2 linked regions of the Homo sapiens genome follow. The protein of the gene in region 1 purifies or fractionates together with the protein of each later gene. This does not show direct contact. Each region holds a gene or a part of one and is shown on either strand. Other genes may lie near its edges.

Region 1 (3,922 bases):
TATGTTTTTAATATTGGCAATTGGAAAATCTCTCTACATAAACATCTCAGCATCAGCAGTTAGCATCAAGGTAAAACAATAGACAGAGTCTACATTTTAGAGACTTTCTAAATAAAGTAAATTGAACTCACAAAATTTGAGGATAGTATGACTGGCTGCTTCTCAGTAAGGCTGAAATGCAGTAATTCGGTGAGAACTGAAGTTGCTGGAGGTCATCTAAGGCTTGTCAGATGCACCCTGAAAACAAATAAAGATATTTTCATAAAAGAAAGGAAAAAATAGCTCCTGCACCTTCTTCCCCCAAGAAAAGCATCTATGCTGCTCTGCTGTTTGGTAGGGTCTTCCACTTGCACATTCAGGATAACTATGAGATTCATTGTTCCCTTCTACATTCTGAAATAGGTTTGTATATAAGAAATATCCAGTGTTAGGAAGGGGAACATCACACACCGGGGACTGTTGTGGGGTGGGGGGAGGGGGGAGGGATAGCATTAGGAGATATACCTAATGCTAAATGACGAGTTAATGGGTGCAGCACACCAACATGGCACATGCATACATATGTAACAAAACTTTATGTTGTGCACATGTACCCTAAAACTTAAAGTATAATAATAATAAAATTTAAAAAAAAAGAAAATTGCTAAAAGGGTAGATTTTAAGTGTTCTCACTACAAAAAATAAAGATAAGTATGTGAGACAAAAAAAAAAGAAAAAAATACATATGTAAATACACACACACACACACACACACACACAAAAGAAATATCCAGTGTTCATTGTGAATATACTAGTATATTTATCACATATATTTATGTCACTCAACTATGTTAAGACTGGTTTTTCAATAAACATAATATGTGATATCTAAAGGCGTATTGCCCTCTGAAATGTAATTACATCACAAAACTATGTACTTAAGTTTATTATTACTCATTAAAAATTAAACGTTCCCTGGAATTGCACAAGAAGGCTATATGTATTCTGTTAAACCTCTCAATATTTATTATTTAATGTTTGGACATATGTTTGGAAATAGTCAACAATCATATGTCTTTCTTATTTAATCTTTTTTTTTAAATAACTCAGCCAAATGACTGTGTTTACCACCGAGTCTGCTGTTTTCTTCTGTTTTCTGGTATTTTTAAAGTATTTAGTGTTCTATACTTCACTTACATAGAGCATTATAAATATATGTATTAAATATAAACACTAAAAATATATATACATTAAATATAAATTTTAATATATATTAAAAATAAACCAAAATGCTTCAGTGTATGTATACACACACACACACACAACATTTCACTGTTTGTTATACAGAAAACCAAAATCATTTTTTCCACAAAGATAAATGTAGATGTATATGCCTGATAGCTTTTAAAATTATAATGTTTAAAATCCTTAAAATAAATGACATTTGAGTTGATAATCAGGGCCCTGAAGAAGCACAATATTACACTTTATTCTAAATACCAGGGTTGTGTTTTCAAATATTCTCTTCTGACCAAGATTTTTACATAATGACCTGTTGAGAATCAAAAGATACATATGGAGTTTTAAAAGAACCTGACTGTTTTGAATCTTTCTAAATCAGTTTTGATTATCCTTTATATTGAAAGTAGTTTATTTGTATTCTATTTATACTGTATCCTCCAATGCCCACATGCTCTGGAGAAAGACATGCATTACTTCTAACAAAACTTTAAATATTTTACACTAAATTACATTAATGACTCATCAGCTCAATCAGACTTCTTTATGTAAATGTCCCATCTTTCCCTGCTGACAAACCCCTCCAATATACAAGTTCACTTCACCTCAGATGAAAGAGCTTCAACTAACATATGCCTTCTGATTCCCATGCACTCATGACTGGCCAGAAATCCCCACCATATCCTAATTTCTTCAATTGAGGGACCTTATCTTCTGTTTCTTTCAAATTTGTTAGTTTTACTTTAAAATGATTGCATCACTCAAAATGTTGTGACAAATGAAACCAGGAACTTTTCTGCATATGTTCATATCAAACATATGTGAACATATTAAATCCCTGACCCAGAGCGACAACTCTCAGAATAAGATCTACATCAACAAATGATAAATCAAGAAACCAAAGCTAACTTTAAAATAATTTCTTACGTATATTCTAAAATGGATACACAAGCTAAGAAGCACTTACTAAGATCCCTTATGCTTTCTCTTTCACTTTCAACTCACAGTTTATCTTCATTCTCATTCGTCAAAATCCTTAGGAAAGGTGTGCTTCACGGGGTCCTGCCTTCTTGACCCCTTTTCTTCTGCCCTCTACCTCTCCACTTACTCCTGTTTCACAGTTCTTTTGACTCTGCATCACAATGCCCACAAAACATGGAAACCTAGCAACCTAGAACCCTCTTCAGACTGTAGGGGGAGGGAATAACTGAAATGGCAAATTCAAAATCTTCTTTAGATGGCAGGCAAAGAGTTAAGGCTGGGAACACCCATGAGTTTATAACTCTTGCCGTATCACACACAAAATCCTAACTATATGCAATATTCCCAATATTGAAACAGTGTGAAGACAGGATTGCCAGATGTAATACAAGACACCAGTAAAATTTGAATTTCTTATAAACAATACTTTTTTAGTATAAATATGTACCAAATATGATAACATATTGAGAGGTGACAACATGCTGGCAGCTCTCGCAGCCCTCGCTCACTCTCGGCGCCTCCTCGGCCTTGGCGGCCACTCTGGCCGCGCTTGAGGAGCCCTTCAGCCCCCCACTGCAATGTGGGAGCCCCTTTCTGGGCTGCCCAAAGCCGGAGCCAGCTCCCTCAGCTTGCAGGGAGGTGTGGAGGGAGAGGCTCCGGCGGGAATCAGGGCTGTGCACTACGCTTACAGGCCAGCACGAGTTCCGGGTGGGCGTGGGCTCAGGGGACCCGCACTCAGAGCGGCCGGCTGGCCTGCAAGCCCCGGGCAGTGAGGGGCTTAGCACCTGGGCCAGCAGCTGCTGTGCTCAATTTCTCGCAGGGCCTTAGCTGCCTCCCCAAGGGGCAGGGCTTGGGACCTGCAGCCCTCCATGCTTGAGCCTCCCCCTCCTCTGTGGGCTCCTGTGCAGCCCCAGCCTCCCCCACGAGCGCTGCTCCCTGCTCCACAGCGCACAGTCCCACTGACCACCCAAGGGCTGAGGAGTGCGGGCACACGGCGGGACTGGCAGGCAGCTCCACCTGCGGCCTAGTGCAGGATCCACTGGGTGAAGCCAGCTGGGCTCCTGACTCTGGTGGGGACTTGGAGAACCATTATGTCTAGCTAGGGGATTGTAAATACACCAATGGGCACTCTCTATCTAGCTCAAGGTTTGTAAACACACCAATCAGCACCCTGTGTCTAGCTCAGGGTTTGTGAATGCACCAATCGACACTCTGTATCTAGCTACTCTGGTGGGGACTTGGAGAACCTTTGTGTCACACTCTGTATCTAGCTAATCTAGTGGGGATGTGGAGAACCTTTGTGTCTAGCTCAGGGATTGTAAACACACCAATCAGCACCCTCTCAAAACAGACCACTCAGCTCTCTGTAAAATGGACCAATCAGCAGGATGTGGGTGGGGCCAGATAAGAGAATAAAAGCAGGCTGGGGAGCCAGCAGTGGCAATACGCTGGGCTCCCCTTCCACGTTGTGGAAGCTTTGTTCTTTCACTCTTTGCAATAAATCTTGCTGCTGCTCACTCTTTGGGTCCACACTGCTTTTATGAGCTGTAACACTCATCGTGAAGGTCTACAGCTTCACTCCTGGAGCCAGCGAGACCACGAACACACCAGAAGGACCGAACAACTCCAGACGCGCCGCCTTAAGAGCTCTAACACTCACGGCGAAGGTCTGCAGCTTCACTCCTGAGCCAGCGAGACCACGAACCCACCAAAAGGAAGAAAC
Region 2 (3,822 bases), on another chromosome or scaffold:
GAAGATCAAAGAAGGAGGTTAAGAAGACAAATAATGAACACATCTACTACTGGACCATGAGACTAATTAAAAACTGGAAAGGTTCCTACCCCTTCTGAAGCCCACACTTCCCGGGCTTACCCATCAATAACAAGTATTGAAGAGTTTGGCCATCCCAAATACCTGCATCCTCTGCTGATTTTTGAAGGGCTTCTGCTAATTCTTGGTCTGCAATCTCCTCTGGCCGTACATCCTCTCTTCCAGCCCCATATGCCAACCGGGCACACTCTGGTAGCTCTCCCTCAGGAAGAAAGGTGGTCTGGGAGCCTGTGGTGCCGATCACGAGTACATTTTTCTTCAGGTCGATGGAACACTTGGAAGAAAGAAACCAAAGAATAATAGCAGATAAAACACCATGCAGAAAAATTATGCTCCTTAATTTAAAACTCCAATCACAAATGGCCAGGCACGGTGACTCATGCCTGTAATCCCAGCACTTTGGGAGGCTGAGGAGGGCAGATCACCTGAGGTCAGGAGTTCCAGACCAGCCTGGCCAACACGGTGAAACCCCACCTCTACTAAAAATACAAAAATTAACCAGGCGTGGTGGCACATGCCCATAATCGCAGCTACTTGGGAGGCTGAGGCAGGAGAATCACTTGAACCTGCGAGGCAGAGGTTGCAGTGAGCCAAGATTGTGCCACGCAAGGCAATCTCCACAGTATTCTTTACTCCATGCTAATGCTAACTTCCTTTTTTGTGTATTTTATAACTACTTAATAGACAGTTGTGCACATATATGATTTACATCTATAAAGTTGGAGACTGCTGGTCTATACCATGACTAAAAAAATAAGGAAAGGCAGTGACAAGGTTTTATTGATACATACACTCATTCATTCATTCGTTCTATTTAGAATGCTGTGAGCCGGGCGTGGTGGCTCACGCCTGTAATCCCGGCACTTTGGGAGGCTGAGGCGGGCGGATCACGAGGTCAGGAGATCGAGACCATCCTGGCTAACAAGGTGAAACCCCGTCTCTACTACAAATACAAAAATTAGCCGGGCGTGGTGATGGGTGCCTGTAGTCCCAGCTACTCGGGAGGCTGAGGCAGGAGAATGGCGTGAACCCAGGAGGCGAAGCTTGCAGTTAGCCAAGATTGCACCACTGCACTCCAGCCTGGGCAACTGAGCGAGACGCTATCTCAAAATAAATAAATAAATAAATAAATAGAATGCTGTGTCTTATTATCAATATGATGCATCTACTTTTACAGAAATATTTTAAAATAGTGACATAAAAATATTGATTAGCTATATTTTCAATTGTTTTTAACTCAATTTTGTTTTTTGAGATGTGGTTTTGCTCTGTTACCCAGGCTGAAGTGTAGTGGCACAATCTTGACTCACTGCAGCCTGGTCTCAAGGGATCCTCTTGCCTCAGCCTCACGAGTAGCTAATGTACCACCACGCCTAGCTAATTTTTGTACTTTTTGTAGAGACAGGGTCTCACTAAGTTACCCAGACTGGTTTCAAACTCATTCTGGCCTCAAGCAATCCTCCCTCCTTGGCCTCCCAAAATGCTGGAATTACAGGCATGTACCACTGTACCTGGCAGGTTGACTGGATATAAAACCCTACTGTGAAAAATGTGAAGTACCCAGTGAGGTCTACAGCCATACCACCCTGAGCATGCCTAATCTCATCTAAATACCCAGTGGACTAACTGCTTCTTCAACGACGGCAGTATATCTCAAATTATTGTGCTTTAGAGTAGAAAGATAAATATCAACACAAATTAATATATTAATTATGCACCCTGTACTAAATAAACACTTTCACTCCCAACATATACCTTCCTTAACCTTGAAGGTCTTCTTCCCAAGTACTGTTTGATCAGCATCAGAGAATGCTAAAGACTTACTTGACTCACACTTTTTAGTCAGGTCATCAAAAAACTACTAATCAGGATCTAACCAGAATCTGAAAATTATACAAGGGAACCAAACTGTCCTTTACAATCTCAAAACATTTGGCAAGATTTAACAGATTCACAGAGAGATTTCACAAAAACAGATTCTATCTATATCGACACATCATTTCAACCTCTGTATAGCAACATAATTTAAGGACATTTCCAGGTTTGAAAAGTCGTTATTTCTTAGTTTTCCAGTATATGTAACCAATAAAAATAATGTGATAATGACCATATTACAAAAAGCAGATGCAAAAAAAATAAGTGAAGCTCTTAATTACCTGGTGCCGTTTAAGCATGTCCAGTCCCAGAAGCATGTCCATGGGCTGTTCCTCAAGTATAGAGAAGGAACATGGCAAAAAATCTCCTTCAATCTGAACCTGAGCTAAAAAGCACATGAAGAGAAAAGGTTATTGTTACGTACTTCAAAACAGAGACGGAGTTTCGCTCTTGTTGCCCAGGCTGGAGTGCAATGGCATAATCCTGGCTGATGGCAACCTCTGCCTCCCGGGTTTAAGTGATTCTCTTGCCTCAGCCTCCCAAGTAGCTGGGATTACAGGCATGTGCCACCACGCCTGGCTAATTTTGGTATTTTTAGTAGAGACGGGGTTTTGCCATGTCGGTCAGGCTGGTCTCAAACTCTTGGCCTCAGGTTATCTGCCCACCTTGGCCTCCCAAAGTGCTGGGATTACAGGTATGAGCCACCGTGTCCAGCTGAAAAGTTCTTTTCATTATTATTTTTTGAGACAGAGTCTTGCTCTGTTGCCCAGGCTGGAGTGCAGTGGCGTGATCTCGGCTCACTGCAACCTCTGCCTCCTGTGTTCTCTGATTCTCTGCCTAAACCTTCCAAGTAGATGGGATTACAAACACGCACCACCACGCCCAGCTAATTTTTACATTTTTAGTAGAGACAGGGTTTCACCATGTTAGCCAGGCTGGTCTTGAACTCCTGACCTCACGTGATCCACCCACCTTGGCCTCCCAACGTGCTGGGATTACAGGCGTGAGCCACTGCACCCAGCCAAAAACTTTTTGTAGAGATTGAGTCTCGCTATATTGACCAGGCTGGTCTTGAACTTCTGGCCTCAGGCAGTCATCCCTGCCTTGGCGTCCCAAAGTGCTGGGATTACAAGAGTGAGCCACCACACCCAGCAGATGACCTATTTTTAAAGAACTCCTTCCTTACACAAGATATTGTGTATTTTCTGCTAAAATCTTTAATTTTCCTTTCCACATCTAGGTTTTAGGGTTGTTTTTTTTTTTTTTTTTTGAGACAGGGTCTGCTACGTTGCCCAGGCTGGTCTCAAACTCCTAGGCTCAAGCAATCCTCCCTCCCCTGCATCTAGGTGTTTACTCTGAATTTGCTTTTGTGTGGTGTGGGTAGGGTCCGATTTCTAATTCATTTCTCCCCATGGATACCTCTTGTCCCAGCAACATTTCCTAACATTTCCCCATTGCTCTGTAAGACTTCCTCTCATTGATCAATGTTCATAGAATCATGGGTTTGTTTCTACTCATATCTTCTAGATAGTCCTTTGATATCTAGAAGGCAATGTTTTTCTAGAGTATTTTGCCCATTCTCACAATATAGGGCCCACGCCAAATTTAAAATGAGCACATCCAGTCTCACAAAAAATCTACCAGGATTTTGATGGCATCTCAATGGTTCTGTGGATTAATGTGGGAGAACTGCCACCCCCAACATACTGAATCTCTAATCCATGGTAAAGCTTTCCTTTTATTTAGGTTTCCCCTATTGCTATAAGGGTTTTTTCATGCTGATCATAGCCACGGTTGTAAAATCCACAAGGATGGCCACAGAGCTTGGTACTTATTTTGTCTCCTCCTATTATCTTCTCATTTAAAGTC

Evidence for each region.
Region 2: the proteins of CPXCR1 (region 1) and DDI2 purify together in Homo sapiens (affinity purification with mass spectrometry; one large-scale study listed by BioGRID and IntAct). This does not show direct contact.

What each region holds. Positions count from the first base shown.
Region 1 is NC_000023.11:88,745,633-88,749,554, reverse strand, and holds the start of CPXCR1 (CPX chromosomal region candidate gene 1 protein), read right to left. Parts: upstream 2,331-3,922; 5' UTR 2,186-2,330; intron 238-2,185; 5' UTR 132-237; intron 1-131.
Region 2 is NC_000001.11:15,648,236-15,652,057, reverse strand, and holds part of DDI2 (protein DDI1 homolog 2), read right to left. Parts: intron 2,339-3,822; coding exon 2,235-2,338; intron 353-2,234; coding exon 163-352; intron 1-162. UniProt on the Homo sapiens protein: Aspartic protease that mediates the cleavage of NFE2L1/NRF1 at 'Leu-104', thereby promoting release of NFE2L1/NRF1 from the endoplasmic reticulum membrane.